2 separate regions of the Homo sapiens genome follow, and region 1 is linked to region 2. Evidence: fine-mapped expression QTL. A gene starts in region 2. The other region holds a variant in brackets. All regions are shown on one strand. Distances are from middle to middle. Region 1 has its middle 11 kb from the start of BICRAL. Region 2 holds the start of TBCC (tubulin folding cofactor C).

Region 1 (12,039 bases), 26 kb before region 2:
AGTTCAATACATTCAACTGTACTGCCTTATTTTAGTTATGTGTCAGGTTAAGCCCTGTGAGATCTTCCCATGTGAATATTCAATGGCAGTCTCCTATGATTCAACCTAATATGTTTCTCTTATGTTCCCTCCTGGATAGGGAGCTCCTCAAGGATGCCAGACCATCATCTGCAAACTTAAATTCTCTAAGAGCCTAGCAGAGTTATTTTGTATATAGTTTGCTCACAATCAATGCTTTTGCAATAAAAGCAACATAGCCCAGTCCACAAGATCTACAAGAAATTAGCATATCTCTGTCTAGAGACCCATATATTAAGGGGGTAAAGTAGATCTCCTTAAACCATGTAAAACCATTGCCCAGTTGATTACAGGCAGTACTATACAGCCTAATGGTTTAGAGTTCTCTCTCTCCAGTTTTATTACTGCCATTTTTTAGCCACGTGATTTTGGCCTAGTTTAAAAATTTCTCTCACCTAAGTTTCCTCATCTGTAAAATGGAGATAGTAATAACCTATATCTCAGGTTGGTTGGAGGAGAGTTCAGTAATATTAAGTATATAAAACCTTTGCTTTGGCCAGGTACGGTGGCTCATGCCTGTAATCCTAACACTTTGGGAGGCTGAGGCAGGAGGGTCGCTTGAGCCCAGGAGTTTGAGACCAGCCTGGGCAACATGGTCAGATCCCATTTCTACAAAAAATACAAAAATTAGCTGGGCATGGTGGCATGTGCCTGTGGTCCCAGCTACTTGGGAGGCTGGGGTGGGAGGATCACTTGAGTCTGGGAGGTTGAGTCTGTAGTGAGCCATGATCAAGCCACTGCACTCCAGCCTGGGCGACAGAGCAAGACCCTGTCTCAAAAATAAAAAAATAATAATAAAAATAAGGGCCGGGCTCAGTGGCTCATGCCTGTAATCCCAGCACTTTGGGAGGCCAAGATAGAAGGATCACAATGTCAGGAGTTCAAGACCAGCCTGGCCAAGAGACCAGCCTGGTCAATATGGTGAAACCCCATCTCTACTAAAAATACAAGAATTAGCCAGGTGTGGTGGCGGGTGCCTGTAATCCCAGCTACTCGGGAGGCTGAGGCAGGAGAATTGCTTGAATCCAGGAAGCAGAGGTTGCAGTGAGCTGAGATTGCACCATTGCACTCCAGCCTGGGTGACAGAGAAAGACTCTGACTCAAAATAAATAAATAAATAAAATAAAAAACCTTTGCTTCAGTGTCCCATATATAGTATTGAATAACAGTTGCCATTATTGTTGTGGTTGTTGTTGTTATTAAAAGTACCGTGGAATTATTTTCAAAGCAATGATAAGCAATTTATTGGAGTGATTACAAATGTTTTCAATACCTTGCCTACATTATTTTATTCAATATATGAATTTAAACACTTCACATCATCCTTGTAGAGGACTAAAGCTATTTGTCTCTATATTAAATGACATGTTTCAAGCTGGTTATTTTCCTTGACAGACTTAAAAAAAATCTGAACTCCTACAAGCTTTCAGTACAAGGATAAGGAATTAATACAATACAGCAGAGCTGTTAATAATAAAAAAAAAGCATTCAGCACTCCCACTGGCCTTCCTGTCTTACCCATGTAGACTGTTTCCCCATAGAATATGTTGAGGGGAGGACAGCCATCAGGTTAGGGGGGCACCACATGCTGTTGGAAGGCATGCCCAGGATGTGCCATTCACTGGCTCCCAGGTCCCCCTGGTATTCTATCAGAACTCTTTAACTCTCCTAAATAGAGCATTCCTTCTATTCCACCTGCTCAGGAGGATGGGGGAGTGGAGAGGAAGTGGAATGGAGGTCACATAATCAGGCTTTAAGGTGCTACCACAAAGCACACTTGGAGCTTAGTGAGAAAGTCAGTCTCTAAGATAGAACACCCATGTAAAGGGACTTGCCCAATAAATGTCAGTGTGCTTTCTGAAAATGAAACTACTAAGAGGTAAAACATCTGAAGAAGGAACTACTCTGGCCGGGCGCAGTGGCTCACGCCTGTGATCCCAGCACTTTGGGAAGCTGAAGCGGGCGGATCACCTGAGGTCAGGATTGTTCAAGACCAGCCTGGCCAACATGGTGAAACCCTGTCTCTACCAAAAATACAAAATTTAGCTGGGTGTGGTGGCATGCACCTGTAATCCCAACTACTTGAGAGGCTGAGACAGGAGAATCGCTTGAACCTGGGAGGCGGAGGTTGCAGTTAGTTGAGATGGCGCCACTGCACTCCAGCCTGGGCAACAAGAGCGAAACTCTGTCTCAAAAAAAAAAAGGAACCACTCTGAAAAAGATGACTCATAAATATGAGTGGAAGACAAGGAAATAAGTATGTACTAAGCAGGCACAAAGAAATATCCTTGACAATAAAGAAAAAAAAAAACTACGGGAGTGGAGACACTGTGTGACCCTCACAAGTATTCTGATCACTAAAGAGCCACATTCTTACTTGAGCACTTTTTAGAGCCTGATTAAATACCCTTAGACCATATAATTCTTTCTTTCCTAAATCTTCCAATTACTAGTTCCATTTCCCAGGGACCCTAATACTGTAAAAGTGACACCCTGTGCAAAGGTACTCTTATACTCCAAATGTTTATATATCTCTCTCACTATAAATCATACAATCAACTACTAGTTAGGTGTATTTATCAATCCTGAGTCAGGTCTAAGACAATCAGGAGGATGTTCAGAGATTGGCAGTCAGAGCAAAGGGCACACTGATGCTCTGAAAGGATATTTCGCACGCGGCCTGGTGAAAATGCGATGAGTTACTCCTGCCCCACCACATGCAAGCACCAAAACTCAAGTAATCATCTTCCCTTCTGAATTTGCTCTTCCTCTCTAGTCTCTATGCATGTTTGTAACACCCACCTTTCCCCTAGACCAACCCCTGGATACTTTTCATTTGTCTATGATTCCTCCTCATTCTCCCTCAAACCATGGAGCTGTTGGAGCTCAGAAAAATGATAGCTTGAAAGATGGCACCCTGATATGCTGAACTAAAGAATGGGCCTCAAGGTCTCTCTGACCTCTCCTCCTCCAAACCCCTATCTTTTCAGTCCTCCGTCTCTCTCAAAAGCACAGGATGTTCTCTGAAGTTTCCTTAACTACTGGACCCCAAAAGAGAAACAGAATTGCCTTAGTTCTCCTCTCTGAAATCTCATTATTTGTCACAGAAAAGACTGAGAAATGCAATCACATCTGGACGGGTTTTTTCACAAGATAATGTCTGCCTCTCACTCAAATTCCAAAACAATCATTTACAAAATAATTTCTGTCCCCTGAACCATTTATTCTTCTTAAAAATCATTTGCTACCCTTCAAAATTGCTCTGATCGCTTAAGCCCAGGAGGTCAAAGCTGCAATGGGCCATCATCCCCAAAAACAGGCTGGCCAGCTGGGCGTGGTGGCTCACGCCTGTAATCCCAGCACTTTTGGGAAGCCGAGGCGGATGGGTCACCTGAGGTCAGGAGTTTGAGACCAGCCTGGCCAACATGAAGAAACCCTGTCTCTACTAAAAATACAAAAATTAGCTGGGCGTGGCGGTGGGCGCCTGTAATCCCAGCTACTCGGGATGCTGAGGCATGAGAATCGCTTGAACCCAGGAGGCAGAGGTTGCAGTGAGCTGAGATTGTGCCATTGCACCCTAGCCTGGGTGACAGAGCGAGACTCCGTCTCACACACACAAAAAAAGGCTGGCCAAGGTGGCTCTTGCCTATAATCCCAGTACTTTAGGAGGCCTAGGCTAGAGAACTGCTTGAGCCCAGAAGTTCGAGACCAGCCTGGGCAACATGGCGATGCTTTGTATTTTTTTAATTTTTTTTTTTAATTGCAGCCAGGTGCAGTGGCTCACGACTGTAATCCCAGCACTTTGGGAGGCTGAGGTGGGTGGATCACCTGAGGTCAGGAGTTCAAGACCACCCTGGCCAAAATGGCGAAACCTTGTCTCTACAAAAATACAAAAATTAGCTGGGCATGATGGCGGGTGCCTGTAATCCCAGCTACTCAGGAGGCTGAGGCGGAAGAATCCCTTGAACCCAGGAGGCAGAAGTTGCAGTGAGCCGAGATCGTGCCATTGCACTCCAGCCCGGGCGACAGAGCAAGACTCCGTCTCAAAAAAAAAAAAAAATTGCTCCACTCCCCATCTCCCCTTCTTCTGTGAAGAAGGGTACTTAGGCACCTGGACCTCATTGGGTTATTGGGTAATCATTCTCCTGCTATTCCCCCATGCTATACATGTTAAATATTAAATAAATTGTTATGTCTTTTCTCCTCTTAATCTGTCTACTGCCAGTTCATTTTCAGCAAACTTTCACAGGGCGGAGGTGAAGCTTTCCCTTGGTCCCTACAAAACTCACTTCCAAAATCTCCCTCGAATACCATCCTCCCTCAATGGTAATTCTTTGCCAATTACCATCACCTGAATTCAGGTCCGCCTATTGCTTGGCCTCCCATTGATCTCCTATCCAAATTGCTACAAAGATCATCTTTCTAGATTCTAGAGCTGGTTGTGTCACACCTTCATCAGCACCTCACTGCCTCACTGCCCAGGGATGTTTATTGCAAGTACAGATTCCCAAACCCAAATCCATAACCAGAGAATGGGAATTTCTAGGGCAAGCTGAGAAGTGGTATATGTACTTTCAAGTGGCTCGGTAATTGGCTCCACCTGCCTCCCCAGGCACATCTCGAGCCAGTCCTCTCCTAGTACCCTGTGGTCCCTTTACAGAGAATACCCTGCCCCTGAACAAACAGATCCAGATTTGGACATATCCTTTCCCATCTGCCTGGAATTCCCTTTTCCTGTGGCACAAGTCCACCATTCTTCAAGGCCCAGCTCCAATGCCACCTCCTCTGGGAAGCCTTCTCCCGTCGCCTAACTCAGTGGCTTTCAAACATCTTTGCTTGAGACTCAATCCCAAGAAACACATTTCACATTGTAATTCAGTAGATATATAATTGAAACAAAGGTTTTTGAAAAAAAAATATCTAAACCTACTATGGAGGATGCATCTTGATGTATTTCATTCTATATTGTCTTTATTTTTTCAAATGCTGTTAGGCACTTGGTAAAGGACTTCATGATTCACTAATGGAGGTGACCCCATTTGAAAAACATTGCTTAAAATGAGTGAGTCCCTTCTCTATGCACTCTATACACGCCTCTATTACCCACTGATCACTTTACAATAATGATTTGTTTACAGTCTGCCTTCATCCTCCTCCTCCCCTCCCCAGACAGGCACATACCACAACCAAATCAGCATATCTTGTGACAGTTCCACAGCTGCTGACAAATGCAGAAATGCGAATATTGGAGAATAAATACTTTAATTGCTTTTGCTCGTGTCTAATTTTTTTTTCTTTTCTGATTACAATTCACAGCATAGTCTATTGAAGACTATGCTATTGGAGACTCAGCCTCCCAAGAGGCTGAGCCTGGGAATTATACTAGCTTCAACCCTTCAGTTAACAGCAATTTTTAAAAACAGCCATTGTATCTCAGTACAATTTAACCAAGGTGTTAATTATTCTCTCCCTCAAAAACAAAAA[C/AC]CACATACACGAAAAACCATCAGAAAATATTTTGTCGGGTTGCTAGCCAAGAGAGTGCAAATGTGGGCAAACAAATCTCTTACTTAGATACTTGCAAGCAAATAGTCAAAAACCTCAAAACCCTCCTTCCCTACCACTTCAGACAGGACCCCCCCACCACCCCCCGCCACCCCCACAGGGGTGGGGATGCAGATATAGAGGCCTTTCTATCTGCGCAGCCTGAAGCTCAATTTCTCACTAGGCGGTCCCTAACAACACAAACAAATGAGAAAAGTAGAAAAAACAAAAAGAAACCAGAGCAGCTAAAAAGCATCACGTAATGAAGCCGGGCCGCAAGTTCCGGTGCGAATTGTACCTGTGACGGATGCACGGGCGCAGCGGCGGCCCGCAGGGGGAGGGGTCCTCTTTCTGCAGCACGTGGCGCCAACGACAGGAAACCTGCCTGCAACACCCGCCAACCCTGTACACCGCTCATTTGCAGCATCGTCATTTGTGTGATGCTAATTTGCTCCATGTCCTTGTAAACGTTCTTACAGAGATAAATGAAAATCTACTGCAGGCTTGGGGTGGCCCTGGGCAGGCTAGGAGAGAAGGAGGGACCCAGCAGTCCCCAGGTGTCAGTGAAAAGCTCTGGGAGTCGGAGGACAGAGTAGGCAATCCTGTTCAGAGAGGGGAGGGCCGGGTGCGGTGGCTCACGCCTGTAATCCCAGCACTTTGTAAGGCCGAGGCAGGCGGATCACTTGAGGTCAGGAGTTCGTGGCCAACGTGGTGAAACCCCGTCTCTACTAAAAATACAAAAATTAGCGGGGCGTGGTGGCGGGCACCTGGAATCCCAGCTACACGGTAGGCTGAGGCAGGAGAATCACTTGAACTCGGGAGGTGGAGGCTACAGTGAGTGGAAATTGCGCCACTGCACTCCAGACCGAAAAAAACAAAAACACTGACCGGGTGGGGTGGCTCATGCCTGTAAACCCAGCACTTTGGGAGGCCGAGGCGGGTGGATCACCTGAGGTCAGGAGTTCGAGACCAGCCTGGCCAACATGGTGAAACCCCGTCTGTACTAAAAATACAAAAAATTAGCTGGGTATGGTGGCAGGTGCCTGTAATCCCAGCTACTCTGGAGGCTGAGGGAGAAGAATCGCTTGAACCTGGGAGGTGGAGGTTGCAGTGAGCTGAGATTGCGCCACTGCACTCCAGTCTGGGCAATATGAGCAAGGCTCCGTCTCAAAAAAAAAAAAAAAAAAATAATAATAATAATAAAATTAGCCGGGCATGGTGGCACGTGCCTGTAATCCCAGCTACTCGGGAAGCTGAGGCATGAGGATCGCTTGAACCCGAGAGGCGAAGGTTGCAGTGAGCCGAGATCACGCCTCTGCACTCCAGCCTGGGTGACAGAGCAAGACCCTGTCTTAAAAAACAAAAGAAAACAAAAAACTAAGAGAGGGAAGAACAGGAGATACTTTAAAGCTGGGTTTTAAAGAATGACTAAGAGTTCTCCAAATCACATGGGGAAAGGCAGAAGAGAGCTCCTGGTAGAGGAACCTAAGAGAGTGTATTTGGCAAAGTCCTTAAATATAAATGAGGGGGACAGGCAGATGATGAGGGGCTTTGCAGATCATGGAAGGGTGTGGATGATCCGTAGGCCGCTGCTTTCCACACTGCAGGTCACAATGCAGTAGGCTGTGCAAGTCATGAGACTGTGACCAGCTTTTATAAAAAATGAAAGAACCTAGATCAGAAGATACCAGAATACATACAAGCAGTAAGGGTGTAAACTTGGGAAATCTGTTTCAGTTATAAATGTGTCTGTGTATGTATGTACTTGTTTGTAATATAAGTGTATTTCTTACTGTGGTGGTGATCTTTAAGTTTTTGAACAAAAAAAATTCTAGACAAACAGGACACAATAAGAGAATGCTATGAACAGATTTGAATTCCATGAGGATAAATGTGGTAGCAGTATGGAAGGTCGGTGGGCAGAGGTGAGGGCTCCGAGCACACATGGTATTGTGTTTGTGTGAGGCTTCTCCAGCCCAGACAGTGAGCTTGATGCTCTAGGACAGACTCTGTGTCATGTAGCTCCCAGTCCCGGCACTTGGCACACAGTAGGCACTAAAGGAATGTTTCTTGACCAGATATGGTAACTAACTTCCAAGATGGCCCCTAGCAAGCCTCACCTCCTGGTATTCTCACCTTTGTGCATCCTCCCTCCTACTGTGTACCAGGGTTGGTTTGGGTGACCAATAGGATAGGGCAGAAGCTTCCCATCTTGGGTGCTCTCTGGATCGCTCACTCTGGGAGAAGCTGGCTGCCATGTCATGAGGACACTCAGAGAGTCTATGGACAGACCCATGTGGTGAGGAACTGAAGTCTCCAGCCAATAGCTAATAGCTTAGGCATCCTGCTGGTAGCCAGACCGCCTCACGGGTGAGCTTGGAAACAGATCATCCCCAGCCTACCCTTCACAGTACTGCAGCCCCAGGGGCCAGCTTAACTATAAACTCATGAGAGACCCTGAGACAAAAACACTCAACTAAGCTCTTCTTGCATTCCTGACCCACAGAACTGTGACGTAATAAATGCTTGCTGTTTTAAGCTGCTACATTTTAGGGTGCCTTGTTATATAGTCATAGACAACCAATACACTGGGTTAACATGAAGTCCAGAAACGTTTAAAATATATTAGAGTTACCCATTCTTTACTACTATTTTGTTTTTTCTCAAAGCATCTGTCACATCACATCTTTAGCCTGCTTAGAGAACGACATCTGACCCAACCTGGGCCATTAGGATCCTCTCTTCTGGGTATTAGCACTTGGGACACAGAGACTGGGTCAGCTGTGAGGAGCAGACTACAAGGCTAGAAAGCCTAGGGGGCAATGCCACCATTTTGGAGAAGTGGTAATGGGGCCCATGTAAGTGCACGGCCTCAGAAGGACCAGTGATTGGGGTAGAGGGGAAGAAAGCAGATTCTCACTGGGCATGGAGGGGAGAAGGGAGGAGAAAGTGCCTGATTGATATCTGAGTCCCCTGAGGCCTGGCTGGCTTTCTAGCTTTGGAGTTGGAATATTTCCTTTCCTTACGATTATTCCTCATTCTACCTGCTAATCTGAGCAAGCTCACTTTCTTGCAAACCAAAGATCCTGGAATATGCTGGCCAGCTTCTGTCCAGTGCTGGCCAGAGAAGCAGCTCCTCCTTTTGTGGCAGGCCAAGTATCTCTCCAGAGAGAACAACAACCCACCAAAGATTAAGCTTTAGTATTACTGCTATGTAAAAACTACTATCGATGGGGTAAAAGGTCCTCTCAGACCATCCAACTCCTTTTGCCTTCACTTCACTTTCAGCCAGTAATCTTTTGATTATTAATGGACTTCACTTTTAAAAGTAGTGTTCCGGCCAGCTGACCTAATCATTCCAGTGGTTGGTAAGTTCATGCCCATTATAAATTCACAGATTGGCTTTCGAAGACAAATCATTCTTGAGTAACCTCAATTTCATTTCCACTGCTCTCAGTCAAGCCCTGTCATTTATCCAGTGAAACATTACAATAGCCTCCCAATGGCACTTCCCCTACTCCAATCCATTCTCTTCACCTTCTTCTAAAACACAAATCTGATGCCTCACTCCCTGCTCTAAACCATCTGACAGGTCCCCAAGCACCCTCAGAATGACTGGCATCTCCAGCCCCATCTTCCACCACGCCTCCTCCATGCTGCTCCAGACCACTCTCCACTCTTGCCATGCGGTGTTATTCCCAAGTTTCTCAATTGGTGTCCACCCAGCTCTGCCTGTGTTCTTCCTGTTGCCTGGTGTTCCTTTCCTATGGACACCTCCCCTGCCTTCCCACTTTTCCCACCCTCCTGTTTCCTCTGTACTTCCATAGAACTTCCTTCCTCCTTGATAACACACAGTATGGTCAGCTTGACTAATAATTACTTGTCCTGTCTGTCCCTGGATTGTAAGCCTCAAGGAGATGAAGACTACACTTTGTTCATTTTTATACTTCCCTTCTCCCCAGGGCCAACTACAGTAGCTTGCATCAATATGTTAAGCTAACATTTCTTGCGTCTTTACCATATCAAGCCACCTGGCTGGTGTTGCAGGTAGCAGACACTCAACAAACACCCACTGGATTAAAGTCAGTCAGGGTGGCATGGACAAGTGTTCCCTGGACCTAATGATGTTCAGATGAGATGCCCATCTATCATCTGTGTTTGCAGAGCTGAGACAGCAGAGTTAGACTCATGGTGGCATCCATGGTGAGGCAATGAATGAATCTCAGCCTAGCCTTTTACAAAAAAACTTTTACATGAGGCATAATTTCTCATTTAAAATTAAATGACATTAATTAATAATTAAATGACATAAATAGAAAACAAAAAAAAGCACTGGAATTAATAAGCAAACAGACAAATCCACACACATACAACACAGTTTTTCCTCTTTTTAAACAATTAATTAAGTTGACATTCCTCTCTCCTCTTTTCTTTCTCTTTCTTTCTTTGAGACAGAGGCTTAACTCTGTCGCCCAGGCTGGAGTGCAGTGGCACAATCTTGGCTCACTACAACCTCTGCCTCCCAGGTTCAATCTATTCTTCTTCTTTTTTTTTTTTTTTTGAGATGGAGTCTCACTCTGTTGCCCAGGCTGGAGTACAGTGGCGCCATCTCAGCTCACTGCAAGCTCCGCCTTCCGGGTTCACGCCATTCTCCTGCCTCAGCCTCGCGAGTAGCTGGGACTACAGACGCCTGCCACCACGCCCGGCTAATTTTTTGTATTTTTAGTAGAGACGAGGTTTCACTGTGTTAGCCAGGATGGTCTCGATCTCCTGACCTCATGATCCGCCCGCCTTGGCCTCCCAAAGTGCTGGGATTACAGGTGTGAGCCACGGCACCCGGCACAATCAATTCTTCTGTTTCAGACTCCCGAGTAGCTCGGATTACTGGTGCTCACCACCACACCCAGCTAATTTTTGTATTTTTAGCAGAGATGGGGTTTCACCATGTTGGCCAGGCTGGTCTCAAACTGCTAACCTCAAGTGATCCACCCGCTCGGCCTCCCAAAGTGCTATTACAGGCGTGACCCACTGTGCCAGGCCTCTTTCTCTTTCTACAATTGCAATTATGACTCACAAGCACATTACAGGATGCTAAGTTTAGATGAACAAATATTAGAGAATGGCATGGGAGTGGATTCCCCAGTTAGCCAGTTTGCGTGTTTCAGAGCTAAGGCATGTGGGTCAATCCACAGGTGACTTTATTGTAGTTCTTTCAAAAGAGTCAGCATCTACACATGAAGGTAGAAGCAGAATCTGGTCCTGATTTTCCCACTGACGATCCTTGTCCTGGCTCCAACTCTTCATCTCTCTCTCTTACCCCCAAGATTTGTGGAAAAGCCCCAGCTCTGGGCAAACTTGAGACTGATGACACAATCCTAAAGAACTTGACTACTCAGATAATATCAGAGAACTTTACAAAGTCACTCCTAAAGCAATTGATGAAAAAGTACCGGAAGGCTGGGCATGGTGGCTCACATCTGCATTCCCAGCACTTTGGGAAGCTAAGGTGGATGGATAGCTTGAGCCCAGGAGTTCGAGACCAGCCTGGGCAAAATCCTGTCTCTACCAGAAATACAAAAATTAGCCAGTCTTATAACCTGGTCTCAAAAGAAATAAATAGAAAACAAAAACAAAAAGCACTGGAATTAGTAGCAAACAAACAAATCCCCACATATACAATATAGTTTTTCCTCTTTTTAAACGATTTCTACACACTAAGTTTCTATCTTCCACAGGCTATATAATCAATCATTATATATTGCCTCAAATCAATGCTCACCCCTACAGGTTCTTAAAAAAAAAGCAGCAAATAATATTGCCTTGATCCCTGACAGCCTGTAGAGCTACCAACAAGAGAGCACCAGGAATCGCCCACTTGTACGATACATGAAGTCCTACAGTGGCTCTGGCTTTCTGGGGAACTCACACCTTTATCAAGAGCCTATATTTTCCTTGGCTTATGTTTGCAACACACATTTCACTCAAGCTTCACCTTTCACTTCATCATCATTCTTCAGATGAAAAGAGTTTCTATTACCTGAAGGGAATTACTCTGTGAAGACAAAGAACAGAAAAAAATAGCATGCATGCCATGTTTAAACACATACATGGAGCAGGGGGCGTGGCTTGCTCACTAGCTCAATGACTGTCTCCCTCCCCACAAGCCTCCTAGGATGTACTTGAATTTGCGCCTCAGCAAATTTCAAATTACTACATGTCATGGACCACTGGGATCTCTCCCAGAGAGAACTCCCAATTGTCAGAGCTACAAATCCCTGGCAACATAGCCCTGTTACGCATTCACATTCCTAAATGTTTCCTGCCATTATTCCGTCCTCCAAATCAGCCTCTTTCACTGTTTAGCAATAATAATGCAACTTTGTAATAGTTACTTTGTAAAAGCAAACTTTCATTATTATT
Region 2 (12,039 bases):
CACCAGTGCAGGGTCCCTGACAAACTCCAGAGAACACCGAAGGGCCTATTCCTTTATTGTTTACCATACCTAAAGACTGTTTTCCTTTGCTTAAATGCTTTCACTACTTACTTCTTGAGGCATGTAACTACAATCATGAGATTCCCTTTGTAACATTAAAAGATCAAATAAATACAACAGACGTTTAAAATTTAACAAATACTGTATAGAGATGCAACCAGCAAAATGCAGACTGTGGGAAACTCTACTGAACAAATGACCAAGCTGCTTCAACAAAACAATTTAGAGAAAAAGGAACCCACACAGTGAAAGTGATTTAAGGCTCTCCACCCAGGACACGGGTCCTCCCACGCCTGAGGCCAATGCTGCCAGGACCTTGGGGTTGGAGGGGGACTTGGCTGACCACATCTTTCAAATAAAGCTGTTTGTCTAACTAAAAAAAAAAAAAAGTGATTTAAGGGACACAATAACTAAATGCAGTGTATGGAACTTGTTTGGATCCTTATTCAAATAAAATAACTTTAAAAAAAGGAAACTGGGCAAGGGGAGGGGGAGCATTAGGACAAATACCTAATGCATACGGGGCTTAAAACCTAGATAACAGGTTGATAGGTGCAGCAAACCACCATGGCACATGTATACCGATGTAACAAAACTGCACATTCTGCACATGCATCCCAGAACTTAAAGTATTAAAAAAAAAAAAAAAAAAAAAAAAAAAAAAAGGCCGGGCGCGGTGGCTCACGCCTGTAATCCCAGCACTTTGGGAGGCTGAGGCAGGCGGATCATCTCAGGTCAGGAGTTCAAGACCAGCCTGGCCCAACATGGTGAAACCCCATCTGTACTAAAAATACAAAAAATTAGCCAGGCATGGTGGTGGGCACCTGTAATCCCAGCTACTCAGGAGGCTGAGGCATGAGAATCACTTGAACCCAGGAGGTGGAGGTTGCAGTAAGCCGAGATCGCGCCATTGCACTCCAGCCTGGGCGACAGAGCAAGACGTCGTCTTGAGAAAAAAGCAAACGTATATTATGGGATAATCAGATGTGAATATAGACTGGCAATCTGCTATTGAGAAAATATTTTCTATGCTTTTTTGGAGTGTGGTGACGGCAATGTGGCTGTCTTAAAAGGGAAGTGGCCAGGCGTGGGGGCTCACACCTGTAGTCCCAGCACTTCCAGGGGCCGAGGTGGGCAGATCACTTGAGCCCAAGAGTTTAAGACCAGCCTGGACAACACAGCAAAACCCTGTCTTTGCAAAAAAAAATACCAAATTTAGCTGGGAGTGGTGGTGCACACCTGTAGTGCCAGCTACTCAGGAGGCTAAGGTGGAAGGATCACTTCAGCCTGGGAGGTCAAGACTACAGTAAGCTGTGATTGCACCACTGCACTTTAGCCTAGGTGACAGAGTGAGACCCTGTCTCAATTTAAAAAAAAAGGGCCCAGGCACGGTGGCTCACACCTGTAATCCCAGAACCTTGGGAGGCAGAGGTGGGCAGAACATGAGGTCAGGAGTTCGAGACCAGCCTGGTCAACATAGTGAAACCCCGCCTCTACTAAAACTATATATATTAAAAAAAATTAGCCGGGCGTGGTGGTGGGCACCTGTAATCCTAGCTACTTGGGAGCCTGAGGCAGGAGAATCACTTGAACCTGGGAGGCAGAGGTTGCACAGAGCTGAGATCGTGCCACTGCACTCTGGCCTGGGCAACAGAGCGAGACTCTATCTCAAAAAAAAAAAAAAGGAACTCCCAATCTTTTAGAGGTATATAGTGAAATATTTATAGACAATAAAATATGAAATAATATAATATAAGGGATGGGCCAAAAAATAATCAGGGTGAGAGGTGGGGAAGTGACTAGGGCTTTACAGGAAACAAGATTCTCAGTTGGTAACTGTTTTTTAAAAAGTTATTATTATTTTTATTGATATATAATAATTGTACATATTTATGAGGTACATGTGATATTTTGATACATGCATATAATATGTAGTGGTCAAATTAGAATAATTGGGATATCTATTACTTCAAACATTTATCACTTCTTTGTGTTGGGAACATTTCAAATCCTTTCTTCTAGCTATTTTGAAATGTACAATACATTATTGTTAACTCGAATTAGGCTACTGTGCTATCTGACACTAGAACTTATTCCCTCTATCTAACTTGTGCCTTTGTGCCCTTTAACCAATCTCACTTCATCTCCCTCCACTTCCCAGCCTCTGGTAACTATCATTCTACACTCCAACTCCATATGATCAACTTTTTCAGTTCCCACATACGAGTGAGAACATGTGATATTTTTCTTTCTGTTCCTGGCTTATTTACTTAACATCAGTTGGCAGTTGTTGAAGCTGGGTGATGGGTATGTGAGTCCTTGGAACACTATTCTAATACCCTCTCCATGTTATATATGTTGGAAATTTTCAAAAAGTTAAAAGGGGGATCTAACAAATAGAACCATAAAGTATCTAAACTGTTGTTAAATAAACGGTAAAGTCCATAATACGTTAGAATTCTTTCATTTTTCAAGATGTCTACAAGAGAGCAGTACCTTGATTCACAAGCCCTTTGAGATATCATTGAAAGTAGGATGCAGAACTCAGAGCTGCTTGCCTTTTGCTACATTTCCCCCGTAATGCATTCCCCACTCTCCTTCCATCAAAACAGGCACTTACCTCTGACAAGCTGGGATATATTTCAAAGATGCATGCTGAATCCACTGCCCTCAAATGGCAGAGAGAGGATGCAAACACAGCCGGGCAATGCCAGCCATTTCGCAGCCTTCCTACTGTGTTTGAACTCAGAAACAGCTTTATCTCCATTTCTTGACCACATACCTCACAGCCTGCAGCTGTGCAGGGGGGCTGTAAAGAACTGTCCAGCCAATGCTTCACAATGACCGTATCACTCACTGACCCCTTTCCACTACTCCTCACATCAGTCTTTGAAACTGCCCCTAACACACCGGGTCACCTGGGTGACCTGTCAAGCTCTGTTTTTAACTGTTTCCTTTTCTTGAAAGTTCGAACTAACCAACTTCAAGTATTTAGAAACTTCCCAAGTCTACTGGATTGTAGCAAAAACCTGTTGGTAGACAGAAATGAAGTTCTTGAAAGGGTTTAATAACATTCAATTCCACTTGGGATACAGCCAACACTTACAACACCCATAGATTCACTATGCCTAATACCGAAATGTTATCTCACTCCAGCTGCAACCTCCAAGTCCAATAAACCTTCTTTAGCTACAAACGTTCTTAATTTGAGTGAGACAGGTTCAACCTGAAAAACTTAAAAGGTCAGGTTGTTTTTTTCTAGAAAAATAAATCTTCTCTAAAGCTTCTTTGCTTAAATCAACATTTCATAAAATAAAGCAGCTATTGCAATTCCTCCACGACTTGGACAATATAACTAGCTTTCTTGTCCACCAGCTTTCAGACCCACAGTTTTGTGAAATAAACCTGCTTTTCTGGAAAAAAAAAAAAAAAAAAAAAGGGCCAGGCACAGTGGCTCATGCCTGTAATCCCGGCACTATGGGAGGCCGAGGCGGGCGCATCACCTGAGGTCGGGAGTTCGAGACGAGCCTGACCAACATGGAGAAACCCCGTCTCTACTAAAAATACAAAATTAGCCGGACATGGTGGCGCATGCCTGTAGTCCCAGCTACTCGGGAGGCTGAGGCAGGAGAATCACTTGAACTCGGGAGGCGGATAGCGGTGAGCCGAGATCGCGCCATTGCACTCCAGCCTGGGCAACAACAGCATAACTCCGTCTCAAAAAAAAAAAAAAAAAACAAAATAAAACAAAAAAGCAAAAACAGAAGCCTCACCTAATCTGCCCATAAAACAAGACTAGTGAAAACGATGACTATGCACAAGAGTAAGCACCATTGTTTTTCGGCACCCCCTTTTCCATCGGGTGCACGCAGGCACGCGGACACACAAGCCTCTCCCCTGCCCCCGCGCCCCGCCTGCGCGGGGAATCTGCCACACGGTATGAACTGTGCTCTCAGCGGAGAAATACTCTGGCCCAGCAATTTATGTGTGTTTTGTTTGTTTTAAGTGGGAAGGAAAGGAAGAGAGTGGGGCGTGAAAATGGGAGATCAGTTTTAACTCAGATTTAATTCAATGGTTCGCGTTTCCTCCCATCTTTCTCTGCATCAAAATGCAGGTAGATCGGTGAAATTTCAAGTTTCTTGGGTCGTTAAATACCCCAATTTAAACGATGGAGGCTGGGAACTGGGGATATAAGGAGGAAACCTAGGGTTGGAAGGGCGGGCAGGGTTAAAGAGGTTCGGGAGCTCCGCAGATCTGAGCGAAGCATGCGAGGCTGCCGCGCCCGGGCAGCGGCTGCGTCTCGGGTTCTCGCCCTGCCCGCTGCCTCGGGTTTTTGCCAGTGACTGCGCCGTCTTGGCTGCCCACCCACACCTCGGGTTGGTCCCGACTTTAGGCTAGGCCATTCACTTCCGGTGACAAATCCCTCCCACCACCCCTAGAAATAATGTACCGCTTCTCCCACCGCTTTCCTAAGACCGACCGCCCCAGAGAGCCACGGAGCCCGGGGCTAGGGTCTCACCCCAGCGCGGCCGGCGACGCCCAGCTGCGGAGGGAGTGGCCGGGACCGAGCTCGGGGAGGGCAGGGAAGAAAGAGGAAGGGGGTGTGGATCTCACCTTCCCCCGCCCCCACCCCTCCGACTGCAGCAATTGGCCAAAAAAATAGTAATCCTTTTATGGACTCCCCCAGGGCCCCTCGAACCAGGTTGCAGTGAGGAACCCAGTCTCTCCCATCGCAGTGCCCCTTGCCTTCTCCTGCCCTAGTAACTGCCTGCGGGGATCCAGGAGCCCCCAGGCCGCGCCGAACTGCAGTGGATAGGGGGGAGGGGGGCGGTAAGGATGAGGGCTACGGGGAGGCAGAAATGGGTTGGGGGAAGGGGTGGTGGAAGGGAAAAGAAAAAACCGGAGGCATGCAAGCGGCTCCCCAGCCAGCTGTTCCAGCTGCTGCTTCCTCCGGCGCGGGCCAGGCGGTGCAATATTCCCCCCCGCTCCATCTTTCTCACCACTACCTGTCCCCCCAACCCACCACACGCACTCATCCCTCCCACCCACACCCCTAGTAGCGGATCTCCGGCCTGTAAGGGGGTAGTAGGGAGGAGCTGGGGGGAGGGGGAGGCCTGCGAGTTTCTAACCTTGTTCTTATAAACAAACCCACATGTGCAGCTGCCGCTGCTGCAACTCACCCCACAATCCCGGATATAAGTCCTGCCCCTTTAAGAGGAAAAAAAAGATTCCCCCGCCTGCCTCCCACCCCACCCATCCACAAGAACCTTTGTCTTCCCACCCCCATAGTCAGTCGGCCCCGCCCCATCTCCCCGCCCCCTCCGACGCAGAGGAACCAATAGGCGAAGAAAATAAGGCCGGGGATCTGACATCATCATGTTAGGCCAATCACCGGACGCGTTGGTGGGAGGCCTCACGGACAGCGCGCCCGGAGGAAGGAAGACAAGAGAGAGGAAGCTTGAAGCCAATATGGAGTCCGTCAGTTGCTCCGCTGCTGCTGTCAGGACCGGAGACATGGAGTCCCAGCGGGACCTGAGCCTGGTGCCTGAGCGGCTTCAGAGACGCGAACAAGAACGGCAGCTGGAAGTTGAAAGGCGGAAACAAAAGCGGCAGAACCAGGAGGTAGAGAAGGAGAACAGCCACTTTTTCGTCGCCACCTTTGTTCGGGAGCGAGCGGCCGTGGAAGAGCTTCTGGAGCGCGCGGAGTCGGTCGAGCGGCTGGAGGAGGCGGCCTCTCGGCTCCAGGGGCTGCAGAAACTAATCAACGACTCAGTTTTTTTCCTAGCCGCTTACGACCTGCGGCAGGGACAAGAGGCGCTGGCGCGGCTGCAGGCGGCCTTGGCCGAGCGGCGCCGGGGGCTGCAGCCCAAGAAGCGTTTCGCTTTCAAGACCCGGGGAAAGGATGCTGCTTCGTCTACCAAAGTAGACGCGGCTCCTGGCATCCCCCCGGCAGTTGAAAGCATACAGGACTCCCCGCTGCCCAAGAAGGCGGAAGGAGACCTCGGCCCCAGCTGGGTCTGCGGTTTCTCCAACCTGGAGTCCCAAGTCTTGGAGAAGAGAGCCAGCGAGTTGCACCAGCGCGACGTTCTTTTGACCGAACTGAGCAACTGCACGGTCAGACTGTATGGAAATCCCAACACCCTGCGGCTAACCAAGGCCCACAGCTGCAAGCTGCTCTGCGGTCCGGTGTCTACCTCTGTTTTCCTGGAGGACTGCAGTGACTGCGTGCTGGCAGTGGCCTGCCAACAGCTCCGCATACACAGTACGAAAGACACCCGCATCTTCCTGCAGGTGACCAGCAGGGCCATCGTGGAGGACTGCAGTGGGATCCAGTTCGCCCCTTACACCTGGAGCTACCCGGAGATCGACAAGGACTTCGAGAGCTCTGGTTTAGATAGGAGCAAAAATAACTGGAACGATGTTGACGATTTTAACTGGCTGGCCCGGGATATGGCCTCCCCAAACTGGAGTATTCTTCCTGAAGAGGAGCGAAATATCCAGTGGGACTAAGCAGTTGTCACTCTGTTCTTCACTCCTACCAAATACTTTCCACGTTGGACTTTCCCCCTTATTGGGTCTCGAAGTTTACTTATTGTCACACTGTGTATGTTTTCAGCATTTTAAGGCTAGAGATTGTAATGGGCTCCTACTTGTAATTTCCATTAAATTCGTAACAGGTATAACACTAAAGCATTTTTGCTATTTTCGTCATGCCTTTGAGACTGAGTCTTACTCCGTCCCCCAGCGTGGTGGCGCGCTGGGATTACAGGCGCGCGCCACCACGCGAACTTGTATTTTTAGTAGAGACGGGGTTTCGCCATGTTGTCCGGGCTGCTCTCGAACTCCTGACCTCAGGTGATCCACCCGCTTCAGCTTCCCAAAGTGCTGGCATTACAGGCGTGAGCCACCACGCCAGGGCTTTATTTATTTATTTTTACCACAATAGTTTGAAGCAGTAAGGGGGAAGGAGGGTGATTATATTGCTTTGTAATGGTTTGTGATACTTGAAACATCACGGTGCATAATAAAGTAGGTCTGCAGTAAATACATGGGTTTGTTTGGTGTGTGTGTGTGTGTGTGTGTTTTGTTTTTAAAGAGATGGGCTCTCCTTATGTTGCCCAGGCTGGTTTCGAACTCCTGACCTCAAGCAATTCTCCTGCCTCAGCCTCCCAAAACACTCGGATTATAGACAGTAACCAGCAGTGTCAGGGTATAGATACATATTTAATAAATTCCAGAGCTGAGCCCGGGGGCTCACGCCTGCAATCCCAGCACTTTGGGAGGCTGAGGTGGGCAGATCACTTGAGGTCAAGAGTTGGAGACCCGGTGCCAGGTGAAACCCCGTCTCTACTAAAAACACAAAAATTAGCCGGGCATGATAGTTCACACCTGTAGTCCCAGCTACTCAGGAGAACTGCTTGAACCTGGGAGACAGGTTGTCGTGAGCTGACATCACGCCACTGCACTCCAGCCTGTGTGGCAGAGTGAGACACTGTCTCAAAAACAAAAAACCATAGGTAATTCCTTTGTCCCTAGACATTCAGTTCCTTCGGAGAGCCATCACTCTTTACGTGTTTCTTTTTTTTTTTTTTTTTTGAGACAGAGTTTCGCTCTTGTTGCCCAGGCTGGAGTGCAGTGGCGTGATCTCAGCTCAGTGCAACCTCAGCGTCCCTGGTTCAAGTGACTCTCTTGCCTCAACCTCCCGAGCAGCTGGGATTACAGGAGCCCGCCACCATGCTCGGCTAATTTTTTGTATTTTTAATAGAGAATTTCACCATGTTGGCAAGACTGGTCTTGAACTCCTGACCTCGGCTGATCCACCTGCCTCAGCCTCCCAAAGTCCTGGGATTATAGGCGTGAGCCACTGTGCCCGGTCCTTTTTTTTTTTTTTTTCCTTTGTTTCTTTGAGACAGGGTCTGGGTGAAGGACCTTCTGGGCTCAAGATATCCTCCAACCTCAGCCTCCCAAGTAGCTGGGACTACAGGTGCACCCCATCACCCCCGGCTAATTTGTGTATTTTTTGTAGAGAGGGCTTCATCATGTTGCCCAGGCTGGTCTCGAACTCCTGAGCTCAAGCAATCTGTCCCCCGTGGTCTTCCAAGTGCTGGGTGGTGGTGCGTGTTTGTAATCCCAGCTACTCGGGATGCTGAGGCATGAGAATCCTTTGAACCTGGCAAGAAGAGGTAGCAGTGAGCCATTACTGTGCCATTGCATTTCCAGAGCAAGACTCTGTATAAAAAAAAAAAAAAGAAAAAAAAGAAAGGGGGTGGTGCCAGGCGCGGTGGCTCATCCCTGTAATCCCAGCACTTTGGGGGGCCAAGGCAGGTGGATCACCTGAGGTCAGGAGTTCGAGACCAGCCTGGCCAACAGGGTGAAACCTCGTCACTACTAAAAATACAAAAATTAGCCGGGCATGGTGGCACACACATGGAATCTCAGCTACTTGGGAGACTGAGGCAGGAGAATATCTTGAGCCCAAGAGGCAGAGGTTACAGTGTGCTGAGATTGTGGCGCTGCACTCCAGCCTGGGCGACAAGAGCAAAACTCCATCTCAAAAAAAAAAAGAAATTTTTGGGTCTTTGCCAGTTTGATGGTTACAAAATATTACCTTCCTCTACTAGTAATGGTAATCATCTCCTAACTCATCTCCCCATCTCCAATTTCTGAACTATTCTGCATACAGCTACTAAATTAGTTTTCTTAAAGTATGTCACTCCTGATCTAAAACCTTCTGAGATTCTTATTATCTGATAGACTTCCTGGCCTGGAAGACAAGCCCCTCCACCATCTGTTTCAGCCTACTGTTCTTACATGATGTTTTACTGTTTCATCACACACATTTCATGCACCAGCTAGTCTGAACTAATACCCATTAATCAAACACAATGTCAGGGCTCTGGCAGGAAACAGATGGCTTGCTCAAAATGGATACTTTGAGAAGAGCTTAATACAGGAGCTATTTACAAAGCTGTGGGCAGAGTATAAGAAAAGCAATTAGAGATGGTACAATATCTGTTACCATCCTTAGGGCTGAAGGGACAAAAATGTTACCTGAATGCAGAGAGAGATAGACAGTTATTGAGCTACCTGACAGGAGTTTCAGTCCTCAGTGGAGGGATGCTGCCAATCCATGGTGACCTGGCAGGGAGAGAGCCATGGGACTTAAACAATGTCATTCTCTTTTATTGGTGCCTCCCGTTGGTAGAGCCCAACTGGAAATTTCAGGGCAAAGAAGTCTGCTGCCGCAGTCCATATGAGTCAGCTCCCAGGATGTAGAACAGCGTGGAGAAAAATGAAGAATGGATCTGGAGGAGGAAATGGAAGACACTAAGGGCAGGCCAGCGCTGTGGCTCATGCCTGTAATCTCAGCACTTCGGGATTGCCTTGGGATTTGCCTTGGGAGGCCAAGGCAGGTGGATCACCTGAAGTCAGGAGTTTGAGACCAGCCTGGCCAACATGGTGAAATCCCGTTTCTACTAAAAATACAAAAATTAGCCGGGCATGGTGGCAGGCGCCTGTAATCCCAGCTACTCAGGAGGCTGAGGCAAGATAATCGCTTGAACCTGGGAGGAGGAGGGTACGGTGAGTCGAGACTGTACCACTGTACTCCAGCCTGAATGCCAGAGCGAAACTCCATCTCAAAAAATAAATATTCAGTGCAAATAGTTTTTGCCGTATTTCCTGGCCTTTTCTCGAGCAGTGCCCACACAGATTGGGTCCCCATGCACTTGCCAAAATTTCATACAAGACAAATGTCACTTCCTCTGGGAAATCTGGGATTTTCCTTAGTCTCTTTTGAAAATGAGGCATGGGCCAGGCTTGGTAGTTCATGCCTGTAATCTCAGCATTTTGGGAGGCCTTGGTGGGAAGATCACTTGAGCTTAGGGGTTCAAGACCAGCCTGGGTAACATAGGAAGACTCTGTCTCTACAAAAAATACAAAAATTAGCTAGGCATGGTGGCACACGCCTGTGGTCCCAGCTACTCAGGAGGCTGAGGCGGGATGATTGCTTGAACCTAGAGGTCAAGGCTACAGTGAACTGTGATTGTGCCACTGCACTCCAGCTTGGGCGACAGAGTGAGACCTTGTCTCAATAAAAAAAAAAAAATGAGGAGGCCAGGAGCGGTGGCTCACGCCTGTAATCTCAACACTTTGGGCGGCTGAGGTGGGCAGATCACTTGAGGTCAGGAGTTCGAGACCAGCCTGGCCAACTTGGTGAAACCCCGTGTCTAGTAAAAATAGAAAAATTAGCTGGGCATGGTGGTGTGCACCTATTATCCCAGCTACTCGGGAGGCTGAGGCCTGAGAATCACTTGAACCCAGGAGGCAGAGATTGCAGTAAGCCTAGATCACGCCACTGCACTCCAGCCTGGGTGGCAAAGCAAGACACTATCTCACAAAAAAAAAAAAAAAAAAAGGAAAAAGCTTAAAGAGAAACCAAGGAACGACCACTATGGGAAAGAACAGGGGAAACTTCTGGCCAATCAAAAAGTACTAAAGATTTACATAAAAGTTAGCTGTAATCTTTGAGGAGGGGAAATGAAGGAGGGAGGAGTAACTGCTTTTTCCCCAGCTTTGGTTACTGAAATTCTCCGGGGAGGGCCATTCACGCACATCTCATCAGAGATGGTAATTTCCAAGAAAGATGATTAAAAAGTTGGATGACTTTTAAGGTCCTTGAGCAGAGGAATGCTTATGGACATTACCAAGAACATTCCATAGAAGTTGCAGTTTAATAAACATTAGCAAATCCAGTTCATGCACAAATTTCTCCCAAGGAGCATTGACAGTTTAGCTTTTTTGTTGTTGTTGTTTTTTACAACAGGGTCTCACTCTGTTGTCTAGGCTGGAGTGCAGTGGTGCAATTATGGCTCACTGCAGCCTTGACCTCCCAGGCTCAAGCAATTATCCTACCTCAGCATCCTAAGTAGCCACCACACTTGGCTAATTTTTTTACTTTTTTTTGGAGAGCTGGGATGTCACCATGTTGCCCAGGCTGGTCTTGAACTCCTAGGCTCAAGGGATCCTCCCACCTTGGCCTCCCAAAGTGTTGAGGTTACAAGTGAGAACAAGCCAATTTAACTTTTTGACTGGGTACATGTTTAGTTTATGTTTGTTATTTATTTGTATTTTATTTTATTTTAATTTCTCTTTTTTTTTTTTTTTTTTGAGACGGAGTCTCGCTCTGTCGCCCAGACTGGAGTGCAGTGGCGCGATCTCGGCTCGCTGCAAGCTCCGCCTCCCGGGTTCACGCCATTCTCCTGCCTCACCCTCCCGAGTAGCTGGGACTACAGGCGCCCGCCACCACACCCAGCTAATTTTTTGTATTTTTAGTAGAGACGGGGTTTCACTACGTTAGCCAGGATGGTCTCGATCTCCTGACCTCATGATCCGCCCGCCTCGGCCTCCCAAAGTGCTGGGATTACAGGCGTGAGCCACCGTGGCTGGCCCACGCCCAGCTAATTTTTGTATTTTTAGTAGAGATGGGGTTTCACCATGTTGTCCGGGCTGGTCTCGAACTCCTGACCTCAGGTGATCCACCCACCTCTGTCTCCCAAAGTGCTGGGATTACAGGCATGAGCCACTGCGCCTGGCTGATTTTAGTTTCTCTTAATCTTCAATTTTGGTATGGTCATGGCATGAAATGTGTTTCCTGCCATGGAAACCCAAACTATAACATTACATCTCTGGAAACTATGGGCTAGACTTGACTTGGGTTCAATTGTGACTGACGTTAAAGAACCAACTGACTTCTTCAGTCCAATAACAGCTGTAAGACTGGGATACTGGGGCCGGGCGCAGTGGCTCACGCCTGTAATCTCAGCATTTTGGGAGGCTGAGGTGGGAGGATCACCTGAGGTCAGGAGTTCGAGACCAGCCTGGCCAACATGGCGAAACCCCATCTCTACTAAAAATACAAAAATTAGCCGGGCGTGGTGCATGCCTGTAATCCTGGCTACTCAGGAGGCTGAGGCAGCA

The links.
Region 1: its variant is fine-mapped to the expression of TBCC in whole blood (TOPMed, PIP above 0.99). The same link has a PIP of 0.9 or more in T cells and blood mononuclear cells.

What each region holds. Positions count from the first base shown.
Region 1 is chr6:42,765,181-42,777,219 of GRCh38, reverse strand. It overlaps a transcript of BICRAL not described here. Among named protein-coding and RNA genes, the nearest start is that of BICRAL, 11 kb to the left of the region's middle. RefSeq lists an enhancer at 5,722-5,921 and a silencer at 6,392-6,441. The variant C/AC (reference allele first, on the strand shown) is at 5,563.
Region 2 is chr6:42,739,564-42,751,602 of GRCh38, reverse strand. TBCC (tubulin folding cofactor C) reads left to right here and starts at 5,500. Exons shown (of 1, transcript NM_003192.3): 1 at 5,500-7,105. The coding sequence starts at 5,530. The coding sequence ends at 6,570. It also overlaps a transcript of BICRAL not described here. RefSeq lists enhancers at 4,008-4,057, 4,444-5,407, 5,472-5,681, 5,712-5,791, 5,852-6,011 and a silencer at 4,442-4,501.